Regions from separate parts of the Homo sapiens genome. Here region 1 is linked to region 2. The links come from fine-mapping of genetic effects on gene expression. A gene starts in region 2. The other region holds a variant in brackets. All regions are shown on one strand. Distances are between the middles of the regions.

What was found.
Region 1: its variant is fine-mapped to the expression of GPAA1 in whole blood (TOPMed, PIP 0.91).

What each region holds. Positions count from the first base shown.
Region 1 is chr8:144,102,641-144,110,648 of GRCh38, reverse strand. It overlaps SHARPIN (SHANK associated RH domain interactor), which reads left to right and starts at 6,876. Exons shown (of 9, transcript NM_030974.4): 1 at 6,876-7,096; 2 at 7,424-7,598. The coding sequence starts at 6,896. MAF1 (MAF1 negative regulator of RNA polymerase III) reads right to left here and starts at 6,188. Exons shown (of 8, transcript NM_032272.5): 1 at 5,791-6,188; 2 at 4,883-5,009; 3 at 4,652-4,780; 4 at 4,408-4,573; 5 at 4,185-4,306; 6 at 3,975-4,094; 7 at 3,686-3,814; 8 at 3,038-3,561. The coding sequence starts at 4,965. The coding sequence ends at 3,540. WDR97 (WD repeat domain 97) reads right to left here and starts at 2,910. Exons shown (of 24, transcript NM_001316309.2): 1 at 2,787-2,910; 2 at 2,454-2,590; 3 at 1,705-2,333; 4 at 1,479-1,600; 5 at 615-1,314; 6 at 393-535; 7 at 72-308. The coding sequence starts at 2,898. RefSeq lists enhancers at 1,437-1,967, 5,589-5,883, 6,635-6,684 and silencers at 5,745-5,984, 6,745-7,024, 7,035-7,134. The variant G/T (reference allele first, on the strand shown) is at 3,267.
Region 2 is chr8:144,079,009-144,087,512 of GRCh38, reverse strand. GPAA1 (glycosylphosphatidylinositol anchor attachment 1) reads right to left here and starts at 4,879. Exons shown (of 12, transcript NM_003801.4): 1 at 4,709-4,879; 2 at 4,210-4,389; 3 at 4,013-4,124; 4 at 3,652-3,799; 5 at 3,473-3,574; 6 at 3,183-3,379; 7 at 2,904-3,100; 8 at 2,638-2,791; 9 at 2,375-2,470; 10 at 2,034-2,224; 11 at 1,770-1,940; 12 at 1,297-1,631. The coding sequence starts at 4,782. The coding sequence ends at 1,388. EXOSC4 (exosome component 4) reads right to left here. Exons shown (of 3, transcript NM_019037.3): 2 at 7,364-7,570; 3 at 6,865-7,271. The coding sequence ends at 6,912. It overlaps MIR6847 (microRNA 6847), which reads right to left and starts at 7,639; the gene lies at 7,571-7,639. It overlaps LOC124902038 (a long non-coding RNA gene), which reads left to right and starts at 4,946. Exons shown (of 2, transcript XR_007061141.1): 1 at 4,946-5,392; 2 at 6,132-8,504. RefSeq lists a silencer at 4,548-4,797.

The DNA of each region.
Region 1 (8,008 bases), 23 kb before region 2:
CTGGCGGCAGGGTTCAGGGTCAGGAACCGGAGCTGGGCGGTGGCTGGGCTTCACCCATGCTGCCCCCTCACCAGTGATGTGGTCCGTGGGGTCGTCCTGGGGCCGGTGGTCTAATCGCGGACTGTCGCCCAGGCCAAACTGCACCAGGCCGTAGGTAGCGCTGTCTGGGTCCTCAAAGCCCGCGGTGACGCGTCTGCCTAGCGCACAGAGCGCCACGGCCGGGTAGCAGCAGGAGAAGGTGCGCAGCAGGCTCAGGCTCTCTTCGGCATAGGGGAAGACGCGCCACATCTTCACCGTCAGGTCCCCACCTGTGGGCAGCGGAATCTGGCTGGGCCTTGTCGGAGGGGAGGGGGCTCTGTGGCGGCCTGGCCTTTGGCAGGGGAGCTACTGACCCGAAGACACAATGCTGTTCCAGGTGGATGCGATGGCGACAACCGGGCCCGGGCTGTGCGCCTCCGTTTGGAAGACAGTCTTCGACGAGAGCCACTCCAGCACCGACAGCGTGCCGTCCGTGTGCCCCACCACTGGCAGGTACCTGCGAGTGGGAAGAGCCTGTTGGCGCGGACCCTGCCGCTCCTTCCGCCCGCCAGACCCTCGCCGGCTCCCGCACCCACCGGTTCTTGTTCTTCCAGGCGCAGGCCACAGAGCTGCAGCGCAACTCGCCCCAGTGCTGGCGCACGATCTCCCAGGAGGAGAAGGCGCCTTCGAGATCCGTGAGGTGGCTGTACAGGTGCAGACAGCAAGGCTGCGGCGCAGGGGGCGGCGGCGGGCACACGCGGTGCAGCACGCTCATGGGGCAGCGCGCCGCGTTGGCGCGGACCAGGTGCCCAGCCCTGGTCAGCAGCCACAGCGCCTCGCGCGGCAGGCAGTAGGCCACGGCTGCCGCGCAGTCCTCCGGCTCCAGCAGCAGTGAGCTCACTATGCGCCCGGTGGCCGCCGACAGGAGGTAGACCGAGCCGTCGGCGCACGCGCACACGAGGCGCGTAGGCAGCGACTGGTGCGCAGGCGCGGGCAACGCGGGCGCCACCTGCACGTGGAGCACCTTGGCGGGCAGTTGCGCCAACGGCGAGTAGAGCTCGCGTACGCGCCACAGCTGCATGCTGCTCGCGCACAGGGACAGCACCGGCCAGCCCGGGCGCACCGGCGCCAGCAGACGGCCCACGCGCCGGGACAGCTTGTCCTGGCCCCAGAAGCCCAGCGCTACCTCGCCCACCTGCGCCGCCGCCTGCAGGTCCCAGGTGCGTAGCGTCCCGTCCTGCGAGGCCGACAACACCAGGGTCGTGTTCGGGAGCACAGTCATAGCCGTCACCGGGCCTGTGGGAGGGGTGCAGGTCACTCGGCCGACTGAAGGCAGGGGAGCCTTCAGCCTGTGTTGCAGTCAGCGCAGCAAGGCCTGGCCGGAGCTGCGGAGATGCTGGACAGCCTAGAGCGGCTGGAGGCAAAGGGCCGAGGCTCGGGGTGCAGAGAACTCAGAGCACCTGTGTGGCCCACGAACACCATCCGGATCTGCCAGTCAGCCTCCCACACCTTCACGGTGCTGTCCCGGGAAGCTGTCACCATTGCCTCTACTTCCTCGCAGTAAGCCAGGTCCGAGATGGTGCTACAGGTGGGGAATGGGAGAATCCCAATGGACTTAACATCGCCTTGTGTGTGAGGGCCGTGTGCCCCTACATGCCTGGCCCTCCCTAGGGGGATCCCCCTCACGTTTTGTGCAAATCCCGGCGCACATCTACGAGAGTCCAGGCATGCAGATCGAAGGTGAGCACGGCCGAGCCATAGGCCGCGAAGCAGCGCAGGACGTGGTGGGGAGGAACCGGCGCCACAGCCAGACGCATGAGCCTGCCTGTTGGGCTCGGGGGCGGGTGCAGTGCTGACCCTCGCAGCACCAGGCGGCGACCACCTGAACGGAACTGCCAGAGCGCCAGGCTGCTGTTCATCTCCGCAACGAGCAGCAGCCTGAGGTCGGGAACCGGCAGGCAGCAGGTGGGCGCCCAACCCGGGGCCCTGCCCACCCCCTGCTCGCTCAGCCACAGCAGGCTGAGGTTGGGCCTCAGAATTGCCAGCCCCGCGGGGCCCCAGCCTACAAAACGGCCCACGGCACCCAGCGGGCCCAGCACGGTCACCAGCCCCGTAAGCCGGACAGGCGCCAGCAGCGTCTCCTGTGCCCAGCCGTCTTCCTTGTGCAGGTGCAGGCGGCCCGCGCCGTCCAGCACCACGAAGCGTCCACCCACCGGGTCCTGCGCCACCGAGCGCAGCCCGGCTGCCACCTCCAGGCGGCGCAGTGGTTCCAGCCCATGCGTCAGGCGCGCCGCGCGCAGCTCGGCTCTCTTCTCCTGTGGGCCGGGGTGGGCGGGCCCGCAATCAAAGGTTGGGGCTACTCCGGCCTAGGGGACCCCTAAGGGAAGGCCCAGATCCGGAAAGAGGCCAGGAGGCGCAGGACAGGCACACCGCACCTTTTCCACGACTTCGTGGAGGCTGGTGCGCAGAAGCAGCCACAGCCGGCGGGCGCGGGCGCGCGGGGTCAGGCTTTGCCACTGTTGGCTGCTGGTCAAAAAGGGCAGGACCTGCGACGGCTCCGTGAAAGTCAACTCTGCGGGCAGGAACTGGAAGTTCTGCCACCTACAGCCTCAGGTCCTCGACCCTGACGGTTATGGGGAGCCCTCCTCCAGGGGCCCTGCCCTACCAGGGACTGCCCAGGGGAGTTTTGTTCCAGGGGACGGAACCCAAGCCCGAATGAGACCCACTTCCTAGCGGGATGCCCGGAGGGCGAGGCCAGGCCCCCTCACCATTCTTTTCGGTGAGCAGCCCAGGGTCTGGGACATCATAGCCATCCGCATCATACAGGTCCGAGTCCAGAACTAGGTTGTAGCCTTCTGCCTCCCACACCTCTGCCTCCATTTCAGCAACTGCGGTCCCAGAGCCCAACAGCTCCCAGGACTTAGCGGTCACGGCCCGCAGCGGCAGTTGCTAGGATACCAGATGCCGCCGGCCACTCCCACACCGCAGGCCCCACCCCCACACCGCATCAGGTCCACACTAAGTCACAGAAACTTTTATTGGAAAGAAACGAGCTGCAGCAAAGTGACACTCAGTGCACGCGGCCAAATGGGCGAGGTGGGGGTACAGGTGGGCACCGGGGCCGGCCCAAGACCAGAGCCGGTGACTGCTGGGGCCTGCTCGTGGGGCCTCCGGCCACAGACCCTTTGGGCTGGAGTGTGCAGGCCCAGTAGAAATACAAAAATAAACTCTGCGGTCCAGCTGTCCCT[G/T]CTGTGGCAGTTCATTTGGGCAGGGCAGTCGCTCCTCCCACCAGGCCCCCTGCTGACAAGTCCGGCCACAGCATGGGCAGCAGGAGTCTGAGGGGTGAGTGGGCATCCACAGGATGGAGCCAAAGGGCTAGGCAGGTATGGCCTTGGGCAGTGCCAGGACTGTGGCAGCGCCAGGGTCTGGCCAGCAGCTGGGGAGGCCCCAGGGGCCTCTCAGGTGGACAGGTCCAGGCATTGGTTGAAGCTGGATGAAGCTGGGGCCTCGGCTCCTCCTCATCAAATACAGATCACTGGGACCCTGGGCGGAGGTTGGCACACAGTGGGCCTTCAGGAGCCACCACTTAGACCAAGTAGAGGAGGCCCCCACCCTGTTGTACCCACTCCAGGCTTCAAGGACCCGGGTCATGGCCCCCATCACACACCTGTCCTCCTCCATGGTGCTGGTCTCCTCGGCCCCACTGCCCCCGCTTCTGCTTTCTTCCTCCACCTCCTCCTCCCCCAGCTCCATGTCCAGCTCGTTGCCTGCCTCTGAGGGTGTGTAGGTGGAGCCACTGAGGGGAGGCAGGGAAACCAGTTTCAGGACCCCTACCCAGGCCTGCTGCTGGCCCCAGGGAGGATGTTCAGGGAGGGCAAAGCTGGGTGGAGATGGCACAGCTGGGGAAGTTGTATCGGCCCAACAGGGAGGTGGGGGAGGAGGCGGGGGGTGCCCACCTGATGGAACGGCAGCTAAAGAAGACGATTCGCTTGAGCCGCTTGTTGTAGAAGAAGTAGTTGAAGGACCAGAGGCTACCATCCTCCCCGAAGGGATCTGAGTCCAAGTCTGGGTTATAGCTGGGGAGTATAGGGTGACAGGTGGTGTGAGGCGCCAAGTGCCCCACAAACCTGGAGGCCTGGAGGCCATCTGCAGGGATGCCGGCCCACCTGTAGATGTCACATTCAGCCAGGCAGATCTCCTCGTCCACCGCGTTCCACAGCTGTGGTTTCAGATCCTTGAAGTCCTCCCGCACAGCTGAGAACAGACTGCAGTTGACTGCATTCACCACCTAGGGCAGGTCACAGTCAGGGTGACAGGAGCCCAGGGCTACCCAAAGTGGGGAAGGACAGTGGGGTGGCTGTGGGTCCCTTCCCTCCACCTGACCCTCACCCAGCTAAGGCTGGGCTCCCGGCTGAACTCATGGCTGCGGGCTGTGCTGAAGTCATAGTCAGGCCTGAAGGACTCATTGAGCGTGGCAATCAGGTAGAAGAGGGTCTTGCGGCTGCACTTGTCACTGAGGGGGCCCTCCTCCTCACCGCCTTGGCTTTTGCTGAGTCTGCACAGACAGAACCATCAGCTGGGCCCATCACCTCCCCTCAACCCCCAGCCCCAGGTAGGCCCCACCATGGCTCACCTGCTGGGGCTCAGTCCTGAAGTCTGGGGTGGAGAAAGTGCCTCCAGCACGTGGGGCTGGCCCTCCTGGCAGAACTGCTTGAACATGTGTTTGTCGTCTCCTGCCATCTTACATGAGTAGCTCTCAATCCTATAGGATGCAGAGAGAACCATGAAGCATGCTTCCCCCAGGTTCCACTGAAGGGCGCGGCAGTGTGACCTCCGAGATGCCAGCCCCCCCAGCCTGCCTCACCTGCCAATGATGTGGGCATCTCCAGTCTCCACAGTCAGCTGTGAGTTGATGGCTTCAAAGCTCGAGTTCTCCAATAGCTTCATGTCTTTGGGGAAGGAGCTCCGTGCTCCAGAGGGGCTAGTATTGCCTGGGGAGTGAGAGACCAGACCATGGGTATCTATCTGGCCCCTTGGGGCCCTGCCTTCAGCCCTCCTACCCACTAAGTGGAGCCGCTAGGAACAAGCTGAGTCTGGCCTCTGTCCAGGCTGCACATCAGGAGCTCCCCTCTCTGCCCGGCCAGGAGAGGTGACAGAGATCCTGTTTTACCTGAGGGTGGTAAGTCCAGGCTCCAGGTCAGCCATACCCCCTGCAGAACACGCGAGTTCTGGGACTAGACTAGACCACCGGGGACCCTGCTCACCCTGGGGCTGCTGGCTGAGATTGTTGCTCAACATTCCCATTCCCCATCTCCACGCCCACTCCAAAAGAGCTCCAGCCACCATGGGGGTAACTCTTGAGTCCGCAACGGGACGTGACTCCTGCAGTCTCCCTCAGGCTGGCTGGGCTCCTCAGCCAAGGTAAGAGGCTGCATCCCGGTTAGGAACCAGGACACCTGGGACTCCGGGCCCTGCGGTCACCTGGGCGGGCGCTCTTTCGTTTTGGCTACTTTCTGGCCCGGGGAGAGGAAAACTACAGGTTCCTCCACTCTACCCGGAAAAATTGCCTAGTTTCTCCAGACGCCTAGGAGGGCGGTCCCTCGGCCCCGCTGGGGCGCTGCAGTCACCAGGCAGCGCCCGCCTGGGCCACGTCGGGCACCAGCCAAGCCGCGGTGGAACTACAAATCCCAGGAGGCAGCGCGCCGCGCGAGGCCTGCTGGGGGCTGTGGTTCCGGGTACGCAGACGGCGCGGGACGCAGGGCGGACACCCACCTGCCTGGCTGGGTTAGATCAGGCCGCGCCGGGCCGGGTCTGGCTGGGCTGGGTCGCTCCGCGTCGGTGCCGGTGCGCAGGCGGGGGCGGGCTCCGCGCAGCGCGGGCTCTTCAAGATCGGAGGGCGGCGCCGCGGCCTCCGCTCGGGCCGCACTGTATCCGGGGGAAGAAGCTCCGCGGCGACGTCCCGTTACTCCCGGCCCTGCCGGCCCATCCGGGCTGCCACCGCGACATAGCCTCGCCCCCTTCCACAGAGCCCGCTCTCGCGACCGACCTGCCGCCGACCGCCACAGAGCGCTCCGGCGAGTCAGCGAGCCGAGCGAGCGAGCGAGCGACCTCCGCCTCCCCCGGCCGGACAACAACAAGCGTCCGCCGGGCCCGGCCCCGCGCCTCTGAATGGCCCGCTCCAGTCTCCGAGATCGAGAGCTCGAATAGCCATCGGGTGCCGTACCCGCCACTCAGTTCTGCCTTCTACGTCTACTGGTTATGGAGCCTGTCTGTCACTCTTCTCGTCGTACTAACCCGCTTACCCCCGGCGTTCATTGGCCGTGGCCTCTCTAGCTCCGCCCCCTAGGGGGGTCGACCCCGTAACCAGTGAGGCGCGGGCCAACCTAGTGCGACGTGTGGGCGTGGCGGGGGCTGGGGTCTGCGGGCGAAGGTGGCAGCCCATTGGAGGTCCCGGGAGCGAAGTCCAGCTGCCGTTAGGCGCTGGGATAGTCGCACGCTGGATGCATCTACGTCCGCCGAGCCCCTGGGGCGAAGAGGCCGCGTCCGCCTTCAGTTGTGGCCGGTGCTTCGCCCCCTGACCCTTCGCCCCCAAAGACCAGCTCTAACGTGAGCGCCTCGGCCGCCCTGCCCCAGCCTCGTACACGCCGCCAGCCTCGCCCAGCCGGTGTCCGGAGACCCTCGGGCCGTGTCCATTTGTGGGCAAAGCCAGCGGGGCAGGCTTGGCCAGAGTGCACCACTCGGCGCCGTCCCAGGCCCGACGCTCTGGGCGCGCCCGGAACCCCAGGTTCGCGGCCCGTGTTTCCGACCGGCGGAGGGGGCTCAGCGGCCCGATCCCACGGAAGCGCGCTCGGAGGGGTGGGACCCGGCCGGACCGGAGATGGCGCCGCCAGCGGGCGGGGCGGCGGCGGCGGCCTCGGACTTGGGCTCCGCCGCAGTGCTCTTGGCTGTGCACGCCGCGGTGAGGCCGCTGGGCGCCGGGCCAGACGCCGAGGCACAGCTGCGGAGGCTGCAGCTGAGCGCGGACCCTGAGCGGCCTGGGCGCTTCCGGCTGGAGCTGCTGGGCGCGGGACCTGGGGCGGTGAGTGGGGGCGGAGGGCGCGCGGTCAGTCCTCTTGGCCCGGGCAGGGCACGGAGCCCAAAGTTAGGCCCCTCCGCTTGCCACCTGGGTGCCCTTAAGCAGTTATGTTTCTTTGCTTCTGTTTTCTCGTCCGTGAAATGGGGGTGACGCTCGGACCTACTGGGACCTACCTGGACCTACTTTACAGGGCTATTGTGAGGATTTGATGATAGGCGTACAGGGCTTAGGACCGTGTAAATGGTCTATAAATGTTACCTTGTATTTCTTTGCTCCTCGTGCGATGTAGGGCGGGGGGACGCCCTGAGCCTGGACTCTCCCTCTTCTCAGGTTAATTTGGAGTGGCCCCTGGAGTCAGTTTCCTACACCATCCGAGGCCCCACCCAGCACGAGCTACAGCCTCCACCAGGAGGGCCTGGAACCCTCAGCCTGCACTTCCTCAACCCTCAGGAAGCTCAGCGGTGGGCAGTCCTAGTCCGAGGTGCCACCGTGGAAGGACAGAATGGTCAGTGCCCTGTAATGGATACAATTACAATTTGGAATAGCCTTGGCCCCCCAGTCCTGGTTGGGGAAGTTGGATCCACCTTCCCCACTGCTGGATGTCTGGGAAGGCTTCCAGGAGGGAGTAGGTGGAGCCTGGAGTAGCTTGGAGTACTTGGAGTGGCTGCTGGAGTCAGTCTCCTACACCATCTGAGGCCCCAGCCAGCACAAGTTGCAGCCTCCACCAGGAAGCCCTGGAACCTCAGCCTGCACTTCCTTAACCCTCAGGAAGGATGAGAGGCAAGCATGAAGAGGCAGAGCAGGCAGGGTCAGGACCTGTGTGAGAAGACATCATCCCAAGAGCAGCAGGAGAGTGACAGGAGTGGGAGAGTGACAGACTCAGATACCTCCTGCTTAAGACAGAGTTCTGCAGTG
Region 2 (8,504 bases):
GGACTGCAGGCGTCCACCCAACCTCAGAGGAAGTATTCACTGGAGAAAGTGACTAGAGACTCCAACCTCTGGGACAAGGGGGCTGAAGACAGGCAAGTTAATTATGAGGCTACCAGTCACAGTGGGGTTCCTGATACCCCCTCATCCCCACTAAGCCTCGAATAATGCTGGACACAGAGAACGTAAGCCCACCCAGCAGACATGTGTTTCCTCTGCAGAAACTCTGGAAGTCGCCTAGGTGCTCACCCTGGGAGCCCTCCACCCATCCCCCAACTGTGGAGCCCCATCAATAGACTAACCCCCAACACCAGGGGTCTCATGTCAAGGGGAGCCTCCCGCAGGAAGACATAACCCAGTGAAGAGGCAGTGGCCTACAGAGTAGGGCACAGGGAGGGCACCCTCCTTGGAACCTCCCAGACAACAGGCCATTTGGGGACACTGTACTGAAAGGACCCTGGCCCTCAGTTGATTCTAAGATGCTGTGGCTTCTCCAGGCAGCACGGCTCTGATTCCTGAGGCCTGTGCATGGTTTTGTGTGGCTGCGGCACCTTTGCCTTCCTGTGACCAGAGGGCTCTCTAGCCGCAGCACCAAGGTCCCTGACATGGCCCTGGCATCACCTAAAGGCCACAGGTTTTTCCTTTCTTTTGGAACAGACAGTGGTCTTCCCAGTTCCTTTCAGAGTCCTAGTATAACAGCCTGCTTCTCTCCTTGCTGGCCTGTCAGTGCCCTCTCCCGTGGGGCTCTTGTCCCCGTGCCCCGCCTGCCCCTGGGTCCTGGCTCCACTGTGTTGCCTGCCCAGCCCCTCGTGGGCATCTCACCTGGGCTGACTCAACTCTGAGGAAGCCAGGCCGGGTGCTCCTCCCTGCTCCATCCCAATCCCACACCAAGGCGATGGCCTTGCCTGGGCCCCATGCCATGCACCCTGGGCCTCCTCTGCAGGGCTCCAGCTCCAGCCTCAGTCCTAGCAGTAAAGATGGTGTTAGGTGGTTTCTGGGTGCCTCAGCTCCTGGCAGGCCCTCAAACCATGGCTATGGTGTATTCTCCTTCCCAGCACCGCTCCTGGCACAGTACCACAGAGCAATGCACACAGCCCTCTGAGCCTGCATGGCACCCGCCAGGGCTGAGAGTGCACCTGATGCAGCAGCAGAGCCCTGGTCGGCAGGAATGCTACCCAGTAAGTGGACTACAGCAGCCCTTGCCAGGGAGGAGGTGTGAGGAATGCCAAGCCCTGCAGACAGAGGCTTCTCACCCCCATGCCCTGGGGCCCTACACGGACAGCGGGCCAGGAGCTCAAATAGCTGCTGAAACAGACACTCATTTATTTCCCCAGAAGGAGGCAGAATGGGGTCCTTGGGGAGTCTCTGTCCCAGCCCGGACAGGCAGATCTCACTTCCAGAAGAGCACATTCCAGAAAAGCAGCCAGCAGGGGTAGAGGCCCAGGGACAGCAGTGGGAAGAGCAGGGCGCCGTAGGTGTGGTGCTCCAGCACACCCTGGGCTAGCGCTGCCAGGAAGAGCTGCCAGCCCTCGGCCAGTGACAGTGGCGCCTCCTGCAGCTCCCGCCACAGGAACAGGCTGCCAAGGAGCGTGGCTGCCGGGCTGGTCAGCACCAGCAGGGCAGCATAGAGGGTCCTGGGTGGAGAAGCAACATCAAGGTAGGCTCCATGGTGGGGGCATGGGCACCAGGTTGGGGGAAAGGGCTACTGAATGAGGGTGCGGTCTGTGATGAGGGCACAGGCATTGGGGGAAGTGGGGCTGATCCATACATACCGGGGCCCATGAGGCTTGGCAAGCGCAGCAGTGGGCACCATGGTGGTGGCCAGCAGGAAGCCCAGTGAGAAGTTGGTGAGGGCGATGCAGCCCAGCTGCAGTGCTAGGTAGATCAGGGCTACCAGCTTCAGTGCCATCCAGCCCCTGTCTGGGGCCTGTGTGCTTACCACCCTGTAAGACAAAGGACTCAGAGGCAACCCACAAGCTGTCTGCATGTCCAGGGGACCTCTACCCCTGCCCCCAACAACCAGCCCAGCCTCTTACCGGTGGGTATTGTGGGGCAGGGCCAGGCCAGCTGCATAAATCGCCAGCAGTGTCAGCACCACAGCCTCAGCCTCTGCCACTGGGAAGTGCTGGGTGGCAACGTGTTGGCCCAGCACTGGCAGGACATAGAGGGCCAGTCCCATGGCCTGTGAGATCAGCAGAGGTGCCACGAGCGAGGCCAGCCCCACACCCTGCAGGGCACACAGGCTCTTGGAGATGGACCCTGGGGCCAGGGGATCCCCAAAGACCACCACCATCCCACCAGCTGAGGCTAAGTTGCAACACTAAACACCAGTCAGACCCCAGAAGCCCATTCCAACAACAGAAGGGGGTGCCATCACCTGTGATGGGGGAAGGGGTACACTGGGGCCAGGGGCACCCCCGGGCTCCTCAAGGCCCATTCCAGCCTCATGCAGCTGCATCCACAGTTCCAGAGCGTAGCCCAATCAAGGACCCCAACAAGAGGTGTAACGGGATCTGCCCAGAGGGGGACCCAGGGCTCACCCCCGTACCCCACCCCCCATCAGGATGGAAGACTCTCCCCAGCCTAGAGTTGAGGAGACTGGAGGCTGGTCACAGGTAGATGGCAAGGGGCAGAGGATATCTTGAGACCAAGGACCAGGAGCAAGAAGCCGACAGCGGGCATGTAGAGGCCGATGGAGACGAAGCGGGAGAGGCCGGGGAGCAAGTAGAGGAAGAAGGACTGGTGCAGGCGCTCCAGGAGGTGGTTGAGCTTGCGGAACATGCCCTCCAAAGCCCTGTCAGGTGTGGGGCAGGTTCACGGCTGGCCAGAGCCACCAGGCCATCCCCCACTCCGCTCCAGCTAGACCCCATCCTGGGCATGGAAAGGGGGGACCAGAGACTACTTACTTGCCCACTGCCACCAGGTCATACTTGTACTGGCGGAAGCTATTGATGCCACGCAGGGTTAGGGCCTCCACACGGTAGCGCAGGAAGAGGCCATGGGAGCCGTGGGGGCGGCCGGAGGCCTGCCGCAGAACCATGAGCAGCAGTGTCTGCAGGCCCTGCAGCGGTCCATCCAATGATGTCCAGTCCTCGGGCTGCAGCTTTAGAGGTGCAGGACAGGATGAGACAGCCCCTCCCACAGACCCTGTGCCCTTCAGCCCTCAGGCAGGCAGGCAGCCCCACCTTGCCCTGAAGCGTGCACAACAGGCCCCCTTTCTGGCAGAAGGTCTGGAAGAGATTGAGCAGGTCAAGGTTGGGCAGCTGCCCGTTAAGCCCCTCCACGGCCACATCGAGGCTGGTGACCACATCACTGCTCAGCTCCAGGGCCACGGCTGCCTGAATGGCCCCAGCTCGGCCCTGCAGGGGAGACGACTGCATGCCTGTAGGAGCAAGTGAATGAGTGCTAATGGAGGACGTGGTGAGGACAGTGACCCTGAGAGGGGGACCAGGGCAGGCAGGACAAGAGAACCTACCAGTGACATTGACATCGTGGTAGGCTTCAAGCCAAGCCTCAGTGCCCAGAAGGTCATGTTCTGTTACCAGGAAGACGATATCTTTGGCCCAATAAATCTGCCCTGGAGGCCAGAAGCAGGATCAGCAGGGTCTGGGGCACTGACCAAACCCCTCCACGGCCAGCAGCCCTGAGACTCACCCCGGAAGTGGGCAGCCAGTGCCAGCAGCAGCCCCACAGCCTGGCTGTTGGTAGAGTCAGAGCCACAGGGCACGGTGAGCACAAGCGACTCGGTGCTGGCAGCACGCGGGGCCCGCAGGATGCCGTACACGTTGGTGCCCGACACCATCTGTATGCAGCATCGGTGGGGGGAGCCTCAGTGTAACTTTGTGGTAGGGGGCTGAAGGGCCCCCCACAACTTTCCTAGCCCTCCAGTGCCCACCAGGGATTTCCCTCCCACTGAGCTTCCTGGCCCCATGACACCCCCGCAAGGTGATACCCAGCCCAGACCCCTCCCTCCAAGGTGCTTTCTGGGCCCAGGCACACCCCACTCCCCCAGTACATAGCGCTCGTGGGTCTCATCTGGGAAGGGCAGTTTCCGGGAGAAACTCTGCGTGTAGACCTCCAGCCCTACTGACCGCATCGTCCGTTCAAGCCAGGCCACTGGCAGAGCCCTGCAGACACGAAGGGAGCCTCTGAGCAGAGCTCCCCGGCCTTAGCCACCACTGCTCGCCCCATACGCCCTGCTCTGCCGCTCACCCCGACTTCTTGCGGTGGGCGGCGAAGTCCCGGGCAAAAGCCCGGGCACGGTCTCCGCCCGCAAACTGCTCCTCCACCATGGTGGAGCCCATGGCGTTCTCCGACATGTAAGTGCGCTGGGTCAGCGGCGGGAAAACCAGCGCCAAGAACCAGGCGATGCCCGCCACGTAGCTCAGCACGCTGTGAGAGAGGACGGAGGGGCACCGGAGCGTCAGCGGGTCCTCAGACGCCGACCCGAGGCCACAACCTCCGCACCCGGGGTCGATCGCGCGGGTCTGGGAGACCTAAACCCGGAGTCCTGCATCGGGACGCCGGACCCGAGCCCTAAGCCTGGGCCTGATACCCTCAGTGCTTCCAGAGGGCAGGAGCGGAAGGGCGCGAGCAGCCGGAGGGGCGCGAGCAGCTGGAGCGGCCCCGGCCCTCGATGGGGACCGCGCATGGGGCCGCCGGCGCGAGCCCAGGGCCCTCGGGTCCCCGCCTCCCCGGGCCCTGTCCTCACCACAACGGCGCGTTGAGGCGCAGCACTAGGCGGGCGAGCGCGCGCCGGCGAACCGGGTCCGACAGGAGGCCCATGGCGGGGCAGGGCGGCGCGGCTACGGACCCTCTCCCGCCTCCAACTACCGCCGCGGTGCCCACAGGCTGCTCCTGTCAGACCCGGGGACCCGCGCTCGCCCGCACTTCCGGTCCCAGAGACGCTCGCGACGGCGCGCATGTCCAGAGCAGAGGGCGCGCCCCTAACACTGTGTGCTGCCGGCGCGCAAGCGCAGAGCCGCGGCCGGCTGGAGGGTGGGCGGTGCCGGTGAGGCCGGCAGGACCTGAGCGGGTTTGGGAGTCCGCTAGGCGCTGCCCCCACTAGAGTCGGACTCGCAGTGCACCCCCCGGGAGGGAGGCAGGTAGCCCTACAGCCGGAGGACAGCAGAGATGCCCGACAGCAGGCCGAGCTGGTCGGGGGCTGCGAGATAGCGCCGGCTGGAAGGCCCGCAGGAGTCAGAGGTGATGAGCCGGGCAGGTGGGTGGAAAGCCGGCGGCGGTCAGAGAATGGATGCCAAGCGAGACTGCCAATGACTCAGGACGTCCCAGTGGAGTCACAGCGTGAGCCCAGCACCGAGGTTTTCAGAGTCAGATGACTGCAGAGAAGATGCTGATGGCACTACTGGCCAAAACGGGCTTCACTGGAGCTGGGGTGTGTGCATTATAAAGTGGGGGATCATACTGTCACTGTCCGGGCCAGGAGATCCGTGGAATATTAGGGGAGAAGCAGTCCCAGGGTCCAGACTGCAGGGACTGGTAGTCGGGGCTCGGTGGGCCAGAGGTGAATGAAGGGGGAGTTTGCTCAAGAGGGTGCACTTTGGGAAGGTGAGGTGGGTGGATCCTTTGAGATCAGCCTGGACAACGAAATGAGACCCAGTCTGTACACACAAAAAAATTCCTTTTAAATTAGCCAGGTGAGTGGGGCATGCCTGTAGTCTCAGCTCAGGAGGCTAAAGTGGGAGGATCACTTGAGCCTGGGAGATCCAGACTGCAGTGAGCCGTGATCACACCACTGCACTCCAGCCTGAGCACAGAGCAAGACCATGTCTCAACAAACAAAATAGTGGTGGGCAGAGAGAAGGGTCAAAGCTGAAGACTCCATGTGAGAACAAGTTTTTTTTTGTTTTTTTTTTGAGACAGAGTCTTGCTCTGTCACCCAGGCTGGAGTGCAGTGGTGTAATCTTGGCTCACTGCAACCTTCAACTCCTGGTTCAAGTGATTCTCCTGCCCCAGCCTCCCTAGTAGCTGGGATTACAGGTGCCTGCCACCACACTAATTTTTGTGTCTTTAATAGAGATGGGGTTTTACCACATTGGCCAGGCTGGTCTCGAACTCCTGACCTCAAGTGATCCATGAGAACAGGTAATTTTTGTACTTTTATTTTTTTTTAGATGGAGTCTTGCTCTGTCGCCCAGGCTGGAGTGCAGTGGCACAATCTCGGCTCACTGCAACCTCCGCCTCCCAGGTTCAAGAGATTCTCCTGTCTCAGCCTCCTGAGTAGCTTGGATTACAGGCATGTGCCACCACTCCCAGCTAATTTTGTATTTTTAGTAGAGACGGGGTTTCGCCATGTTGGCCAGGCTGGTCTCAAACTCCTGACCTGAAGCAATCCGCCTGCCTCAGCCTCCCAAAGCTCTGGGATTACAGGCGTGAGCCACCATGCCTGGCTGTTGTACTTTCAGAGCCCAAGGTAAGCAGCAGGAAAAGCCCAGGGGGCTCCAAACCATAGTCCAGAGGTTGTGGGACATGGCCCCCACATCCCTAGGGTGGGTACCCAGAGCCAGCTGAGTTCTTCCTCAGCCCTTTGCTCAGGGCCCCCGATGTGCTGGAATAAGGGTAACAGATTCCTCAGTCTAATGGCCTGGCTCATCTTGCCAGGCCCTGCCTCCTGCTCAGCTGCCTTGAGTCCTTACTGGGACATGCTGCTTTTTCCACCCAGGGCCTCCCCTACAGAAACCCCCTAATCCACTGTTCTCTTCAGGGTTTGAATCAGGCTACACAGAGATAGGCCGTTCATGTGTGGGCGAGGGTCCCTAATCATCCCCAGGAGCCAGCACCAGACCAGGCTCTGCCAGCCTTCACATGGCTCTGAAGTGCTGTTAGGTGATAACGTACAGTGAGGGGTGTGTGGGCAGAGGAGGGTTTTATTCTGGACATGGGTGGCTGGGTGGTCAGTCCCCCAGCAAGATAGAGGCCTCACGCACATGCTGCCGGACCACTCGATCTAAGAGGGTGTGCACATCTCGGGCAGCCTGGGCAGCAGCCTCCAACACCCGCTCCAGGTGGTCCTCGTGCAGCCGGGCATCCATCTCAAGCAGCGCAATCTGTCCTGAGGCTGGCAGCAGGGCCAGGGCCAGCTGGGGGCCACCAGCTGCTTCCTCCACATGGCTGAGGTCCGCCAGGGCTGTGCCGTCCACGAAGCCAGCTGAGCACGCACACACAAAGTCTCTCATGGGTATCCCGGCATCCAGCACTGCCAGCGTGGCTGCATTCACACAAGCTGCATAGGTCCCACCATCTGCCTGTAGCACCTGCAGGGAACCCAGGGTGTCAGTCTATCAGACTCCCTCCCCAACCCCATCACACCCTTCCCTCCCTGGATTGACGGCTGCAGCTGGCTCACCTGCACATAGATATCAATCTGGGAGCGTGGGTGCAGCTGTGTGAGGATGGCTGCTTCGAAAGTCTGGCGGAGCTGCAGGCCCATCTCACAGGACTTACGGTCCCCATGTGGCCGTCGCTTGCGCTCACCTGTGCTGAAGGTCGCTGAACTATATTGACAGTTCACTAGGGCCCTGTCCGGCAGGGCTCGAGCCCGGGAGCCCCGGATCTGGAAGAGGACAGACACATGAGCCAGGCCCACTCCTTCCAGCTCACACTCCACTGTCCTCTGTGGGTCTGCCTCTCCCTCCACTTTCAATGCCTCAGCAAGGGGCAACTGCGTTACCTCCAAAACAAAGCCCCCTGTTTTGCGCTCTCTGTCTTGCATGTGTCGCCCTCTGGCACCTTTTAATTGGCTTCCTTGTGTCCATCCTTGCCCCATTCCCTGCCAACCCAAGTTTACAAACATCAACGCTGCTTCTGTCTCACCTACACACTCAAATCCTAACTACCTTACAAAGGTTTCACATTACATATGAAATAAGATCCCAAATCATTTCCCTACTCTACAAAACCCTAAGTCCTCACCTCCCCGGGAACCCTCAACCTGATTTGGAGTTATCCCCTCTTTCCCCACCAGCAGTCTTTCTGCTCTGCATAAGTGCCTTGCTTGTTTTCACCACCGTGGTCTTCGCCCTTCTGGTTCCCTCCGCCTGGAAAGCAGAGCTCCCACACTCATGCGCTAAGCAAACACTCTTTCAATACCTTCGCTGGCCAGGCAGTTACAGCGCTGGAAGCACAGTAATGAAACCAGATAGTTTTATGTAAAGTTCCTTTCTTTAGGAAGCTTATGTTCCAGCGAGGAAACAAAGGGGAAAATGCTTAAGCAAAATAGGCATTTGAGATTGTAGGTGCACAAAACAAAGGGTTTATTGTAGGGCGAGAAGTACCGCGTGGATAATAAGGTCGTCTGGGAAGGAGTGACGTCGGAGTAGAGCTGAAAGGAGAGGGAGCGAGTGGGGGAGTGCCTAGCACGTTGAAGAGCCGCAAAGAGGAAGGAGGGCGCAGGGACAGAGGCCGATGAGAAAGGCAGGACCACCGCGCAGCACACTAAGGACTTGCGTTTACTCCGAGTGAGATGCGGTGCTGAGCATCGGCTGTGT